Linked DNA regions of Homo sapiens: region 2 is linked to region 1. Evidence: fine-mapped expression QTL. A gene starts in region 1. The other region holds a variant in brackets. All regions are shown on one strand. Distances are from middle to middle.

Region 1 (8,489 bases):
ATATAGGAGGCATAAAATAGCAGATTAAATGGGTAAAGAATTTGGGACTAATAGATGAGTTTAGAGGCTATTTCCTGAAATTAGGATCAGAAGCCTTTGTTAAAATATAAATTGCAATGACGGGTGTCTGCAGGAATAGATTTGTCGGTGGAAAGCTGAGGGTATTCCCAGTGATGGCTTCTATTTCCTCCATGAAAGGTACCGTGAAGATGGAGGGAACAGGGGATTGAGAAGAATGGGGAAGATCTAAGAAGGTGATGCAAAGAACGGAGAAGAAATCTAACTGGAAACACCACATAAGTGTTAAGATTTAAATTTACAAATGGCAGCCAGGCCCAGTGGCTCAGGCCTGTAATTGCAAGCAACATGGGAGGCTGAGGCAGCAGGAAGACTGCTTGAGCACAGGAGTTGGAGGCCATGGCGAGCTACGATCGCACCATTGCACTCCACCCCAGGCAACAAAGCAAGACCCCATCTCTAAATAAATAAATTTGCAAATCGTTAATGGGACATTTTCACAATTTTCTTCAGTGGATAGCTACATTTTAAAAGTAACTCCATAATCTACGTGAATGACGCATTTATATTTTAAGAACTTTAGGTCTAGTTTCAGAGAATATTCACAATTTTTAGATATAAGATACTCTGAAATCTTCAATTACTTTAACAGGAAAACACCTTGCTGCAAATTTTAATAAGATGTGTCAATGGAATTAACAAATAACATGACTAAGAAAAGACTAGATTTGGCCAGATATTTCCCACCACAATTTAATCAGAGAAAATGAGAAAATAAACTGTAGCTTAATTATAATCATATAATTAGAGCTTCCCCACAGACACAAGAAAGTAAACCACTTTCACATGTAGTGAGTGTTGGCTGGTGGATTATTTTAAGCATCTATTGTTACACAGCAGTGAGGCCTCTTTAACGTGATCAAGTACGTACACTTTAAGTCCAATCGTTTCCTTGGTTAGCTGCTTCATTCTGTTTTCATTTTGAGATATTCAAGCATAATCTAGTCAATAATATTTTGCCCTTATCCGTCAGGATGTATTTGTAATAAGGGCAGGGGTTAACATATTAGCTAGCAGGGCTATTTAAATAATCTACCCAAGACCTATAAAGTCAATATTAATTCCCAATGAAACACAATTAACTTCTGTGATTTAATAAATGGGTAGCTTTGATACACATGAAAAAAATGTAGACTGATTACATTTGACAATTTTCTTTCAGGAGCTATTAATACACTGACACCACAAAATATTCTTACAATTGAAGTGTTAAGACTGTTAACTTTAACTTTTATTATGTTACCTATACTTCTTTCACGGAAAACTCTCGAATAATCATTGGAACCAATGAAAAACTATTTCAAAAAACAACTTTTTCCTTATATTCAACTTTCCAGACATAAATGTAAGGCATGAAACAGTCACATTGGTTTCTAATAGGTTTATATCCCTGTTTTTTTTTTCCGTTTGACTTAATAATCTGAATGCTGGTTAAATGAAAAATGGTCAGGCCAGGCGCTGTAATCCCAGCACTTTGGGAGGCCAAGGCAGGCAGATCATGAGGTCAGGAGATCAAGACCATCCTAGCTAACACAGTGAAACCCCATCACTACTAAAAATACAAAAAATTAGCCGGGTGTGGTGGCGGGTGCCTGCAGTCCCAGCTACTTGGGAGGCTGAGGCTGAGGCAAAAGAATGGTGTGAACCCAGGAGGCGGAGCTTGCAGCGAGCCGAGATCTCGCCACTGCACTCCAGCCTGGGCAACAGAGCGAGAGTCTGTCCCAAAAAAAAAAAAAAAGAAAAGAAAAATGGTCTGAAATGTGGCTATGGAGCCCGGTTGCAACATGAAATGTGTTCCCTGAGCAAGTCAGTTACGTAACTTTCACCTCCAACCTCATGGATGAGGAGGACGTGAAGACGTACAGAAAGCATCTGCATGGAAACTGACATGCAGGACACGCTCAAACATGGGAGGCTGCTTTTTCTAGTGATCTTCTAGATGAAATCTACAGTTAATGTTCCTTCACCAGCAAAAGGAAGCATGCTCCCTTTAACCATGAACTGTATCATCCTTGTATGTTAATCGAGTCATCAATAGTTTCTATTCATGACAGGGGAAATATCATCCCTTGTAATAGGTCTGGCTTTGACGGGCAGCTCCACTAACCATTCAGAAATAGACTGGAATGGTAAGTTACAGTTACAGAACTGTTACAGAAACTACACACAGGGCACTACTAAAAAGAGCTACACATTACTTTTCCAATTTTACAAAGAGCATAAACAGAGAACATATGCTATTCTAATAATTCCCAGGAGTGGTATAAATGTAACTCAGCTCATTTGAATTTTTTTTAGAAATTATGGTTACTTCAAAAATTGGGAGTCATGTGAGTTCCTATGTTCAGTATATTTTATAAACCCAAACGTACACTAAGGTTATAGCAACTTTTATTCCAAATGCCATCAATTTTCAAAATAACCCCCAAGATGAAAGATACTCATCAAAGTTTGTAAGTGGCTATTCAGAATTAAGTCAAGCACTTTAAGAAAAGGATAGTAAAAAGGGATATAATCTACTTAATGGTTCTTGGATCTTTCCATGCCATTACTTACACCACTTACCTATCTATCCTCTACTCAGAAAAGGGAACAATGATAACAGGAAACAAAATAGAAATAGAATTGCTGCAGGGTGCAAAAAAAGCTAAATTGGGATAATATAGAAAAAGTACTTTAAAAGAACTAATGACACGGTGGGATATGATCACCAGAAAACATTTCACATACCCTTTATGTCTTGTTTTCCCTCAAGACAGACCCTAACTACAACAAAGTATTCCCATGTAGAGCTTGTTCCTGCATCCATGATGTGACAAATTATTTCTTCAACCTGGTGCCTGTTCCGATTTAGATTCCCACTCTTCGGAAAATACAGGACAGAACTCATTTCCTCCCCAGACACTGTGAATACCTCAATTTTTTCATGCTCCTCAGAACTTTGTGAAAAGAGAAGAGAAAAAAAAAGGGTTTCCCTAGGTCACCAACACAGTAATAATCTGAAAAAAAAAGAAAAATCTCTTCTCTTTTTCCTTCAGGAATGGAAATGGGAAGGAATGGTAAAACCCCAAACAGTGTATCTGTGACAGCCCATGAGTGGCTCTGTTATTCAACATGGAAACAGAAATATCTACTTCAGCTTGTCTGAGCCTCAAATTTCCTTAGGTGTCTGGCCAAAGAACACGTAACTACAGGCACAGCTGGTCTATCAGCCTCTAAATGAATAAAAACAGGAGCCACAGCCTGTGAACTAAGCTCTGGATGTAAATCTCGTGTTTTCAGTAAATCCACAGATCTCTCGTCGTGGCACACCCTCCCTGCTACCAGCAGGAATGATCTCTTCCCCCATTTAGCTCAAACAATTACTTTCCTAATCCCACATACATGATCACTAGCCTCCTAAGAAGAATTCACAAAAATATTGGGGATCTCTGGAACGTGTATCAAGTATTTGGACATCAAAAAAAAAACCTCCCAAATCCTGACAATTTTTACATTTAGTAGGGTCAGAAGTACAGTGATTTTGTATTTAAGTGACAGATTTTTCCATTTTGTAAAACTTTTTAAATGAAACTTTTATAAATATATATTTATATATTTATAAAATTATATATTATACATTATAAGAAATATACTTCTTAATTTATTGACATACAAGGATTTTCCTGTTATCTTTTGGTTGATTCCTTCTATAATTCCGTAAGAAAAATACTCTACATGATTTCAATCATTTGAAATTTATCAATACTTGCTTTATATTCCTATATGTAATCAATGTCAGATGCTCCATGTGCTTGAAAAGAATGGATTATACAGGAACTGTAACATTCTATGAATGTCCATGAGGTCAGATTTGTTCATTGATCATGTTCTTTAAGTCTTCCATATCCTAAGATTTCTGTCTGCAAGTTGTACTATTCAGAAAGGTATGTTAACTTCCCACTAGGATTGTGCATTCAGCTATTTTTCTTGTTTCTGTATATTTTTGCTTTATATAATATGTACCTATATCTGAACTGAACCTTTTACCACTGTGCAGTGATCCTCTTCATCTCTAATGCCTTTTGCCTTGATTTCTATGTTGTCTGATATCAACATGTTATACCAGCTTTATTTTGCTTAAAGTGAGCCTGAAATAAAATTTTCCATTATTTTGCCTTCTGTATCTTTGTTTTTAGATATGCTTCTTGTAAACCTAGTATCTCAGATGTTTTTAATCCAATCTGACGTGTCTTTTAGCAGAATCCTCTAGTCTATTTACATTTATTGTAATTACTGACACTTGAATTTATAGCTATCATGTTATTGTGTGCTTTCTGTTTTTCCTGCCTCCTCTATACTGTCTTCATAGTAGACAGTGGTGTTAAGGTCCATTTTCTAATTTTTCTCCTTGTGTTGAGTAATATCAATAAATTGTTAGGTAAAATGATTCACCAATTTTTATTATTTATATGTCTCAATATAACTTTCCTAAATTCTCATGCTTCTAGTTGAAAGCAAAACATAGGACATAAAATCTTTATGAAATTACAATACAACTACCATCTGGCCTTTAAGATTAACCAATCTATGGAAGTACAAGGCTGCCCATTAAAAATGACAACAGTAGGCTCTCAGAACTGCTGCAGCTTAGTCAGTAACCAAGCTGTTTTCAAATTTTTTATTCTTCTAGTTTTACCCAGTGAAACTAAGATATATTATCACAACATAGATATCTATTTATGTATGTAGTATCAGATATTATTGATTCTTGGGGCAACCAGATGTCACTAATTGTGTTTACCCTACCATAATTCTCCTTTAATACCCAGCTCAAAATATAAACCAGTTAAAGCCAAATTCTTCAGAAGCAAAACGGTGTCATTCTACTTTTAATGGGGGGAAAAAACTATTTTAACAGTCCTACTAATTTTTTTCAGTGTCACACAAACTATCATACTGCAAGATAAATCGTGAGAAGTAAACAAGCCAGTACAAAGCCTAGCATCTTAACACAGTAAATATGACATTGGTGACTGTAGAAGGAAAAGATGAGACATCACCAGGAAAAGGTTTTCCCAAACACCTCACTGACTGGTGGTTCAAGGTAAGACTGTTAGTCTTGTGGCCCAAAGGCTCTATCATGGTCTAGAGTTGATTAGGAAAAATGCCTCAGGGCAAAGTTAAAGACAATCAATTATAAAAAGCAAAATGACATACTATCAGTATTATTAATTTACAACAAAATAACCACCAAGAAGACTGAATACTGAACTCTTCTGGGCAATGTAATCTGTCCCACTACAACTACACTGGGGAGCAGATAATAATCAGTTATGTGCTGAGTAAATTTGGAATCACAACAAAGGGACTCACTTGCTTCACAAGTTCATGGCATCACACCACATCCATTTCCACTGTGGGAATATGCCTGCCTTAGGATGCTGTCCCCAAATAAATAACGCCCACACAGACACTGATAAACTTTGTTTTTTTCCACACTCATTGTTAAGTGACAACTTCTTCCTCTGTGGCACATCCATCCTATGTTTTCTGATAGACTGAGTGTCTCCCACTCTCTCCTTCTGTGATCCATTATATACTGATAGACTTAAAATGGCTTACCTCTCCCTAAGCTAAACTTACTGTTAGTAGGTACCTTACCCACCCATCACCAATAGCATGACCTTTTGTTATTGGGCTACATTAAAAAGCAGGCATAAATGTGAGAGGCACAAAGTCCCCAAACTTCATCCTCTACCTGCTACTTCATCAAGAGTCCAGCACTGCCCAAGGAGTAAACCTTCTGTATCTACCAATCCAGGATGTGGTCTTAAGATACATGTACTCTTAGGCCGGGCACGGTGGCTCATGCCTGTAATCCCAGCACTTTGGGAGGCCGAGGCGGGCAGATAATGAGGTCAGGAGATCGAGACCATCCTGGCTAACACGGTGAAACCCCGTCTCTACTAAAAATACAAAAAAAAATTAACCAGGCGTGGTGGCAGGTGCCTGTAGGCCCAGCCACTCGGGAGGCTGAGGCAGGAGAAGGGCGTGAACCCGGGAGGTGGAGCTTGCAGTGAGCCGAGATCTTACCACTGCACTGCAGCCTGGGCGACCGAGCCAGACTACGTCTCAAAAAAAAATAAAAGATACATGTACTCTGGCCCAAAAAGGCAGGTATGACTTCCACAGTTTCCTTGCCCATATCCTTCGCTTCTTAGTCCTCTGCCCTCACAGGGCTGGTCCCCGCAGAACACATGCCTAGCCAGCTCCTTCATGGACACTGTGTTCAGTCACTCAGGTCCAATAGCCAAGCACAGTTCCATCCAACAGTAACCCCCTCCCTCCCCAGCCCCATTCCCCTTCCAGTTGGAGGAGCAGGCTTCTTTTTCAGATGAGTAACTCCAAGAATGACGTTCTCTTTAAGTGATTATGAACCACAGTCTAATAAGGGTGAGACCCTGCTCTTCCCACAAAACCACAGCCCTCATAAAGTCAAAGGTATACATCTAAATAGGCTGTTGTGTGTTTGTTTTGTTGTGTTTTTTTTGTTGTTTTTTTTTAAACTGCAACCACAGGGCAGCTGAAGGCAATGGGGGACTGAGGAAGGAGGCAGCAGAAGTAGGAGAGGAGCAAGAATCCAGAAGGGAAATGAGAACGACAAAACTGAAGTGCACTTCAACATCCTGCAGCCAAAGGGGTAAAAAGGAGAAAGAAGCGCAGACCAGTCACATAAATGCCACAGTGACATGCACAAAAACGTGAGGGGCACACTCCAGGGACAGAGTCTGACAACATGACAAGCTACATGGCATCAAACTCTTTCATGTGACAGGCAGCTTTTCACATGTGCATCTTAAGACTGGAACTTGCTATAGATAAACCTTAAGTAGTTAATAAAAGCAAAAGTCATCCTCTATTCACTGTTTGCTGCCATGTTCCAGGCATAGTACTTGGCACTTTTTATTTTATTTCACTTGATCAGCTCAGAAAGTCCTCCAAATGAGTATTTAAAAAAAATAACAGCTCACTTTTTGAAAAACAATTTCAACTTTTATTTCAGATTTGGGGGTACATACACAGGTTACATGGGGATACTAAATGATGCTGAGGTTTGGGGTGCAGACGAGCCCATAGCCCAGGTAGTGGGCATAGTACCCAACAGGTAGGTTTTCACCGCCCTGCGTCTTCCTCCCTCCCGCTCTAGTAGTCTCAAGTGTCTACTGTTCCCATCTTTATGTCCATATGCACTCGATGTTTAGTTCTCCCTTACGAGAACATGTTGTTTTCGGTTTTCTGCTCCTGTGTTAATTCACTAACAACCTCCAGCTGCACCCACCTTGCTACAAATGACATGATTTTGTTCCTTTTTATGGCTGCATAGTAGTCCATGATGTATATGAATGGCTCACATTTACTGCACACTTACCTTCGTAACAACTGTGAGTCAGGTACTAGCATTATTCCAGCTTACAGTGGAAAAAGCTGAGTCAGAGAGGGTAATAAAATTGCCTCGGATCACACAGTTATCAAGTAGTGAAGCCAAGAATCAAACCCAAGCAGTAAGCCTGGGCTATGCATTAAAACCTAAGTGCATCATCATTGAGCTTTGCTGTCTGTGATGTAAACATCGTCCCCACTTTAGAGGTGAGAGACATTTAGGGAGGTAAACACACCAAGGCCTCACAGAAGTGCAGGGCTGAGCTAGGACCTGAATCCACCTCATCCTCTGTTATAATACTCCTTCTCTCATTGTGGAATTATACATATTTAAGTACTTAGGAAGCAAAATACTTACACTTAAAGTGAACCTCCACTTATTTTCAGAGACTTACTACACAAAAGGAAAAAAAAAAAAACATATTTAATGTGTTTGTAACTGGCTCGATACTAAGCCACGCTCTAGTGCATAAATTATTCCCTGAGAATTAATAAAGTACTTAAGAAACTTGTATTAACTCTTTCAGGCCACAGGGGTAGCATTCAGTGAACTGAATTCTTAATTTACTAAAATGGTACCCAGAAGGTTCAGAAGAACATAACTTCCTCTGAGGGCATGGGGAGAAAAAACTTGTAAAGCCACTTAGGAATATAAACTAAATTCAGAACAAAATTAAAAACCATGCCACAGGGAAATATTGTTCTAGTGGATTAGCCTCTGGCCCTAAAAATTGGTCAGAAATGAAACAGGGAGGTTGAAAATATCTAGGAACAGAAAATCACCTTCAACGGCACATTTGAGCCCAATGGCTAGGGTTCTGGAGCCTTGACTGTAGTAATCAGAGAATAGGTGAAAAGTTATTTTGTTCCAACTTCATCAGGTACTTCTGGGAAAGGCATAGTAAGACCAACAGCTTTATGACATCACCAGATCTCCAACTGGTATCCAACATATCATATATACACTAATAATGCAAAATTAGACTCTT
Region 2 (8,489 bases), 89 kb after region 1:
TAGACATGAGCCACTGAGCCCAGCCCTATTTTTATTTTTTATTTATTAGTTTTTTTTTTTTTTGAGACAGGGTCTCACTGTGTTGCCCAGGCTTGAGTTCAGTGGTGAGATCATAGCTCAATGCAGCCTTGAACTCCTGAATTCAAGCAATCCTCCTGTCTCAGCCTCCCAAGTAGCTGGGACTATGGGCGTGCACCACTAATCCCAGGTCTAAGATGCTAAGACCCCCTCGATGCTTGGCTAATTTTATATTTTGTAGAGACAGAGTCTTGCTATGTTGCCCAGGCTGGAGTGGAGGGGTCCAGTCTTGGCTCACTGCAGCCTCTGCCTCCCAGGTTCAAGCAATTGTCGTGCCTCTGCCTCCTGAGTAGCTGGGATTACAAGGGTGTGCCATCACACTTGGCTAATTTTTGTATTTGTAGTAGACACAGGGTTTCACCATATTGGCCAGGCTGGTCTCGAACTCCTGACCTCAAGTGATGTTCCCACCTCCACCTCCCAAAGCATTGGGATTACAGGCATGAGCCACCACACTGAGCCCAGTTAGGATTTTAAAAGATAAATGAAATCCAACACACTTCCCACTCACACCCCCACCACCACCCCTGCTAAGTGCTAGGGATCTTGGGTTCATAAACAAATGAGCTAATATTTGCAAAGCCACTTTGCAAAATTTAGAGTGCTACTGGCGGAGCTTAGCTGTCATTATTACCATATAACTGACCCTTTTAGAGTTGTGGCTGTCTCTGTGGACCTGGTGTGACAGTTGTCAGGGACCGGGAAGAAGGTAAAAGAGCGTTAGAATAAAGTCTAAAGCTTCTTACTTTCAAATGTCAGAGGATTGTAAAGAATGACTCTTGCTGTGGCCATGTTCAATGAATTCAAAATTCTGGAGGCGGAAAAAAAGAAGTCTATTTCATGTGACTTTCTCCAAATGGCAAGTTAGTTCTGCATTTCCCTAACCTAATTAATAGGAGGCCACCTATGTCACCAGGGAGAGAGGCTCACTCTACATTACCCTATTTTCCCGCTGAGCCCCGTGGAAGTGAAAATTTTGGGAGGGAATCTTTAAATCACACTAATACATTGCCTATTTTCTTCAAACACATTTTCAAGAACACTTTGAGACCATCCCCTGGAGAGAACCACAGGCAAAAGGTATAAGGATATTATCTTCAGTTGTTTAGAGAAGAGTTTTGAGGGAGATTATCCCAACAGGGGTGTCACCTTCAAATCTTAATCCTTTTAGACCTCAACAAACAGCCTACAGGTTCCCCTTTTCATAAGTCCGAGAATGCCTCTGGCCAAAGTGGCCTAAGGACATTTCAGAAGGAACAGGCAGTCAAGAGACCAGGTCTAAGATGCCAAGACTCCACTGATGGTCCAGCTATTCCCATAGCCCTGGCTTTCAGTTTTTATCTTCGTGTCCGCTGCTCATGAACCTCTGAAATGCATCAGCCGCGGAGAATTACATGCAGAAGGCACTGTCTTCTAATAAAAAATCTGAAATTAAATCCTTGCGTACTTTGATAGCATCTTTCAAAAGCAAAATTGCCTGCTCAATTATCCAGATAGCTCTTCCTGCCTATACAGAGAAAAATGACACACAACAGTGAATACGCTTTATATTTTTAGAGGCGTGTACCATGGAATATCTGTTAGTGTAATTAATTTAATTGAGTCATACCTACCAAGAAATTATTTAATTATATTGCTAGTTGAATAGGTGATAATGATGATAGTAAACTAACATTCTTTTTTAAAAACATTCTATTTATCGCCAGGTGATAGGAAGAGATTGAGAGAGGGATGGAAATCATTACTGAGAAGGCTTGAACAACCACAATTTACTGCGAACAGATAAAAACCAAACACCTCAGCCGTATTATCACCATAATTGTCTGCAGTTTACCCATCTTGTAAAATAAACGGATCATGAAATGTGAGAGCACGTTTCAAAACATACATAGAAGGTGTTAGAGTGATTATGGGTAGGCTGCCTGACTTAATGGTGAATTGTTTTTCTTTCAGTGGGAAGTGAAAAGGTATTAATTAGTAGTGATTTTGACAAGATTGGAAGTCCACGAACTTTGGCTTAGAGAGAACTTTGCAAAGGCACCTACATGCTGCAAAGAGAGTTGTTGTTGTTGTTTTTAGCTTTTAATGGCATTTTGTTGTTTGCTAATCCCTGGTGCAGGCACACACTTGCAGATCTCAGATTTGATAAACGTTCGAGTGCCTCAAGTTTTAACACGAAGCTTTTCTCTCCTAACTCCAGGTGGCAAAGGCAAAAGCTGGACTGCATTGTGTGGCCCCAGGGAGCTGCAGACAGAGGAACTGAGTCCTGGCCACTGTGCCTGCTGTCTCTTACAAGTTTAGAGATGCTGGCATTGCATCGAAATCGGACAACACTCCCTTCCCTCCCTTCCCAGGTACTCCATTCCCAACCTTTTCCACCAACAGGTCCTTATTCTCAGAAGCCAAAAATAATTTATTGGTTTCCACTGTTCTCCTTGGCTGAATCTTCAAGTACACCAACTCCCCCCTCTTCTGGACAGACTCTCCATAATTCAGCCAGCATCTAATCAGCACCTTGCTTCTCTTCCATTCTTCCTTTCTCCAGAGTCATGATTCTTCCTTCTCAAGTCAAAGAGGAATTACAAGCAAATAGACACTATCCTTGAATGCAGTTTGGGTTACACAGAATGGGGAATGAACTCAATCTCATTTTTGCTTCTTTGTTGAAATAAGCTCAGTATCTCCCTTGCACAGAGATTGAATCGGCTTCACTAAGGCAAGCAGCATTTCCTCTTTTCTCCCAGTCAGCATCGCAGCTCTCTGCATTCCCCTCTCGCAGAGGTGACTATTCATTGTGTTCTTTCCAGGAATGTTTTCTGAGCTTCAGGAGGCCCTGAGTTACCTGGATAATTAGTGCTGTCCTTTTGCACAATGCAAAAACAAAACTATTATGAGATAATTTCTTTAGCTAAGTTGGGAATGGGGTTTAAATGCGTGGGCAAATAGATCTGGCAGTCAAATTCAGACTGTCATATTTTGTGATCCACCCTCCCACCGATCATAGCATATAAGACTCTGATGAACTTCACCAGCAACAGGGAATTCTCCCTCCACTGCAGATAAAACAATGACAATATGGAAGTGAAAAATGAATAATTCAAAAATGGAATTCTCTGTGGGGCTCCGTGCAGTGTGTGTTTCTGTGTGTGCATGTGTTTTATACAAGTCTCTGTTACTTTTGTAGTTTGGATTGGACTTCCGTCGGTCCATTAATTTTGTTACTGGATCCCACCACTTACCCAAAATTAGCCTTTGGGTTGGGTGTTTCTGCAGTATAGTCCCTTCTGTGGACACCAGAAAGATATTACAGGAAAGGGGTCCTGATCAAGACCCCCAGAGACGGTTCTTGGACCTGGTTGGGAGGCCGAGGATCACTTGAGGTCAGGAGTTCGAGACCAGCCTGACCAACATGGTGAAACCCCATCTCTACTAAAAATACAAAAATTAGCCAGGTGGGCCAGGCACGGTGGCTCACGCCTGTAATCACGCCTGTCATCACAGCACTTTGGGAGGCCGAGACAGGTGGATCACCTGAGTTCAGGAGTTCAAGACCAGGCTGGCCAACATGGTGAAACCCTGTCTATACTAAAAAAACAAACAAACAAACAAAAAAAAAAACAAAAATTAGCTAGTCATGGTGGCCTGCACCTGTAATCCCAGCTACTCAGGAGGCTGAGGCAGCAGAATCCCTTGAACCCAGGAGGCAGAGGTTGCAGTAAGCCAAGCTCTAGCCTGGGCGACAGAGCTAGACTCCATAAAAAAAAAAAAAAAAAAAAAAAAAAAAAAAAAAAAAGAAGAAGAAGAAGAAGAAAGAAAGAATTAATTCATTAATTCAGGATGAGCCCGTAAAGTGAAAGCAAATTTATTAAGAAAGTAAAGGAATAAAGAACGGCTGCTCCATAGACAGAGCAGCCCCAAGGGC[A/G]GCTGGTTGCCCATTTTTATGGTTATTTCTGGAAGATATGCTAAACAAGGGGTGGACTATTCAAGCCTCTCGTTTTTAGATCGTATAGGGGAACTTCCTGACGTTACCATGGCATTTGTAAACACTCATGATGCTGGTGGGAGAGTGTAGCAGTGAGAATGACCAGAGGTCACTCTTGTTGCCATCTTGGTTTTGGTGGGATTTGCCTGGCTTCTTTACTGCAACATATTTTATCAGCAAGGTCTTTATGTCCTGTATCTTGTGCTGACCTCCTGCCTCATCCTGTGACTTAGAATGCCTAACCATCTGGGAATGCAGCCCAGTAGGTCTCAGCCGCATTTTACCCAGTTCCTCTTCAAGATGGAGGTGCTCTGGTTCAAATGCCTCTGACAATTTCACGGATGGATTCCAGGGACCTGTGAGCAGTCTCTGGAAGTCTTTGGCTAGGTGTGGTGGCTGACCAGGAACTGTGGCCCACCTTGTAGTTCCCACACATGGGGAAGCAGACAGGTAGAGTGTAACCCACCAACCACTGCACACGCAGGAAACAGATCCCATGTCAGGACGCTTTGTAAGTGCTGCATGCTTCCAGACCAGTGGAGAGAACCCATCAGCACGTATCTGTAGCCTTTACTTTTGCAAGAACATATCGCCGCATTGTTTGGTAATTTAACATTTTTGACAAAAACAACTTGAAAGAGATGATGTTAAAAAATGCTGGCAGGGAGCACACAGGATTTTTAGGGTAGTGAAACCTCTCTGTATGATCCTACAATGTCATTAGACATTTGTCCAAACCCAGAGAAAACACACCACAACCAAGAGTGAACCCTAATGTAAACTCTGGACTCTGGGTGATGATGATGTACAGTGTAAGGTTCATCAATTTTTTCTGTAAACCAAAAATAAAATTCTAAGTCCTCCAGCCATCTAAATGGACCCCTCCTCTTGGCCAAGAGCATTCCAAAGCTAACCTGAAAAAACTAGTTCAGGCCATGTTGGAAAGAGAAAGCCAGACATGCCTCATTATCCCCTCCTCCCTTTTGGAATTGCTGATAAAACAGACTCTTTAAGTCTGACAAGAAACATTTACAATCTATTCTCTCTAAAGCCTGATATCTACAGGCTTCATTTGCAGGATAAAACATTGATCTGGGCCAGGTGCAGTGGCTCAGGCCTGTAATCCCAGCACTTTGGAAGGCCGAGGCGGGCGGATCACAAAGTCAAGAGATCGAGACCATCCTGGCCATCATGGTGAAACCCTGTCTCTACTAAAAATACAAAAATTAACTGGGCGTGCTGTCACGCACCTGTCATCCCAGCAACTTGGGAGGCTGAGGCAGGAGAATCGCTTGAACCCAGGAGGTGGAGGTTGCAGTGAGCTGAGATCGTGCCATTGCACTCCAGCCTGGCAACACAGCGAGACTCCATCTCAAAAAACAAAACAAAACAAAACAAAACCTTGGTCTCCACAACCCTTTATCATAACCCAGACATTCCTTTCTACGGATAATAACTCTTTCAACCAATTGCCAATCAGAAAAATTTTAAATCTACCTATGACCTGGACGCCCCTGTTTCCAAGTTGTCTCACCTTCGCATCCTGAACCATTGCATATCTTGCCTGTATTGACTGATGTCTCATGTCTGCCTATGATGTATAAACCAATTGTACCCTGACCAGGTTGAGCACATGTCATCAGGACCTCCTGAGGCTGGGTCATGGGTATGTCCTTAACCTGGGCAAAATAAACTTTCTAAATTGATTGAGACTTGTCTCAGAGACTCTTGGTTTCCATTACAAATGTGCCACGATGGCAGGAATGTTGATAGCGTGGGAGGCTGTGTGTGTGTTGGAGAGGCAGACAGTATATGGGAATTCTCTGTACCTTCTGCTCAATTTTGCTGTAAACCTAAAACCACCCTAAAAAATAAAGTCTGTTAAAAAAGCAAACACATCAACAAAACTACAGTGGGTCATCCCACCACAAATCTTTGATGAAATGAGTTCAACTTAACCTTTTTTTTTATTAGCCATGCCATAAAATTTAAGTGTATTTTTGTTCTATTTAATGAAAAAAAAAAAGATGCTGGCAGTGAATGAGGGACAGGAATGAAGGGCACGTATAACAGGTAAACCTTAGACGCTTGTCTAAAAATAATACCTACATCTCCCTTTTCAGCTTTAATTATTTTAACACCCCTTGTGAGCTGTCTGAGAGCTGAGATGTGAGCATTCTCAGGAGCCTCTCTGCAGCCCCTGACACTTGGTTTTTTCTTTATTTAGAGCCGACATCAGGAGAGGAAGAGAAATGGGAAACTGAGGGCCAGGAGGGAATTTGGGAACATTTTCAAATCCACCTACAGCTGTCAGCAGGACGCCGGCTCCCTAAACAGCTGTGGGTACAAAGGATCCTGAAATCCACTCCAAAAACTTAGATCTCCCTCCCAGCTGCTTTGCAGGGCTCGGGGAGTTAATGATGAAGTTCTTCCTTATGTCGAGCGCAGAGCTCCAGCCTTCTGATTGGATGAGTGCTGAAGATTAGAAAACGGCTTCTTCGGAGGAACTCCAGAGACATACTGCTGAGAAAATGAAGTCAGCCATTCACGAGAATATACCGTATGATTTGGCGTGATTCTGTAGGGTTTCTGCACTTTAATCCCTTTGTGATCGCCGTAAATATGTTACAGGAAAGGGGTCCAGATCCAGACCCCAAGAGAGGGTTCTCGGATCTCGCGCAAGAAAGAATTCAGGGCTAGTCCGTAGTGCAAAGTGAAAGCAAGTTTATTAAGAAAGTAAAGGAATAAAGAACGGCTGCTCCATAGACGGAGCAGCCCCGAGGGCTGCTGGTTGCCCATTTTTATGGTTATTTCTGGATGATATTCTAAACAAGGGGTGGATTATTCATGCCTCCCCCTTTTAGACCATACAGGGCAGCATCCTGACGTTGCCATGGCATTTGTAAACTGTCCCGGTGCTGGTGGGAGTGTAGCAGTGAGGACGGCCAGAGGTCACTCTCGTGGCCACTTTGGTTTTGGTGGGTTTTGGCCGGCTCCGTCACTGCAAGCTGCTTTATCAGCAAGGTATTTATGGCCCATATTTTGTGCTGACCTCCTATCTCATCCTGTGACTTAGAATGCCTTAACCATCTAGGAATGCAGCCCAGTTGGTCTCAGCCTCATTTTACCCAGCTCCTATTTAAGATGGAGTTGCTTTCATTCACACACGTCTGACAATTCCTTCTTGCAAAAGACAAAACGCAGGCCATGCATGCTGGCTCATGCCTGTAATCCCAGCACTTTAGGAGGTTAAGAAGGGAGGGAGGTTTAAGGTCAGGAGATCCAGACAAGTCTGGGAAACACAACGTGAAAGGAAAATAAATCTTGGGGCCCCCAAATCACTAAGCTAAAGGAAAAAGTCAAGCTGGGAACTGCTTAGGGCAAACCTGCCTCCCATTCGACTCAATGTCATTCCTCTGTTCACTGAGATGAATGCGTATCTGAATGCCTCCTTTGGAGAGGCTCATCTGAAACTCAGTAGAATACAACCAATTGTACCTGGAAGCCCCCTCCCTACTTTGAGTCATCTGGCCTTTTCTGGACTGAACCAATGTTCATCCTACATTTGTTGATTGATGTCTCACATCTCCCTAAAATGTATAAAACCAAGCTGTGGTCTGACCACCTTGGGCACATGTTACCAGGACCTCCTGAGGCCGTGTCATGGGCTCGCATCCTTAACTTTGGCAAAACAAACTTCCTAAATGGACTGAGACCTGTCTCAGACTTTTGGGTTTCACAATAGTGAGACCCCATCTCTGCAAAAAAATAAAAGAGATTAGCTAGGTGTCACGGCACACGCCTGTAGACCCAGCTACCTGGGAGGCTGAGGCCGGAGGGTCACTTGAGCCCAGGAGTTCAAAGCTGCAGTGAGCTGTGATTGCACCACTGCACTGCAGCCTGGGCAAGACAGAGCAAGACTGTCTCAAAACAAAACAAAAAAACCATACAATCAATGGTGGTAGATATCACAATAGTGTTTTTTCTTTGCTGGGGCTGCCACTGAGAGGAAATTTCTGGGATGCTAGATTCTATACCCTTCTCTGGAGGAATTCACTCTGTAAAGATTCATCATGCTGTATCCTTGAGAGGTGGGAATTCGCCATATGTGGGTTACATCTCATTAAGTTATGCCTCTAGATGATCTTGATCTCCTTCTTTATCTAGCTCATATACAATGACAAATGTGGAACATACAGAAACATATAGGGAATGGTGGGTTAAATGCTGCGTACTCACAATTCGACTTTTACAAGCCTTAACATTTTGCTGTTTCCTCCAAATTTTTTCTTGTCTTTTAAAGAAATACAACATCACAGGTAGTAATCGAAAGCCTGGATGTCTCTGTTTCTGATCACACTGTTTGCTCTCCCTCTCCAGAGGTAACCATCATCTTGCGTTTAGTATTTTTCATTTTCATTTATGTTTT

Which allele goes with the higher level. Alleles are on the strand shown, and positions count from the first base shown. SD is a standard deviation of normalised expression in the study named.
As copies of A replace G in region 2, the expression in breast of the gene that starts at base 3,727 in region 1 goes up (small effect, 0.30 SD a copy in GTEx).

What was found. PIP is the estimated chance that this variant, and not a neighbour inherited with it, causes the effect.
Region 2: its variant is the best candidate, but not a certain one, in a credible set for the expression of SDK1-AS1 in breast (GTEx, PIP 0.88).

Annotation. Positions count from the first base shown.
Region 1 is chr7:3,347,323-3,355,811 of GRCh38, reverse strand. It overlaps SDK1-AS1 (SDK1 antisense RNA 1), which reads left to right and starts at 3,727. Exons shown (of 3, transcript XR_001744897.3): 1 at 3,727-8,489. All of the region lies in intron 1 of SDK1 (sidekick cell adhesion molecule 1), which reads right to left.
Region 2 is chr7:3,258,579-3,267,067 of GRCh38, reverse strand. SDK1-AS1 (SDK1 antisense RNA 1) reads left to right here. Exons shown (of 3, transcript XR_001744897.3): 2 at 2,279-2,432. Among named protein-coding and RNA genes, the nearest start is that of SDK1, 38 kb to the left of the region's middle. The variant A/G (reference allele first, on the strand shown) is at 4,001.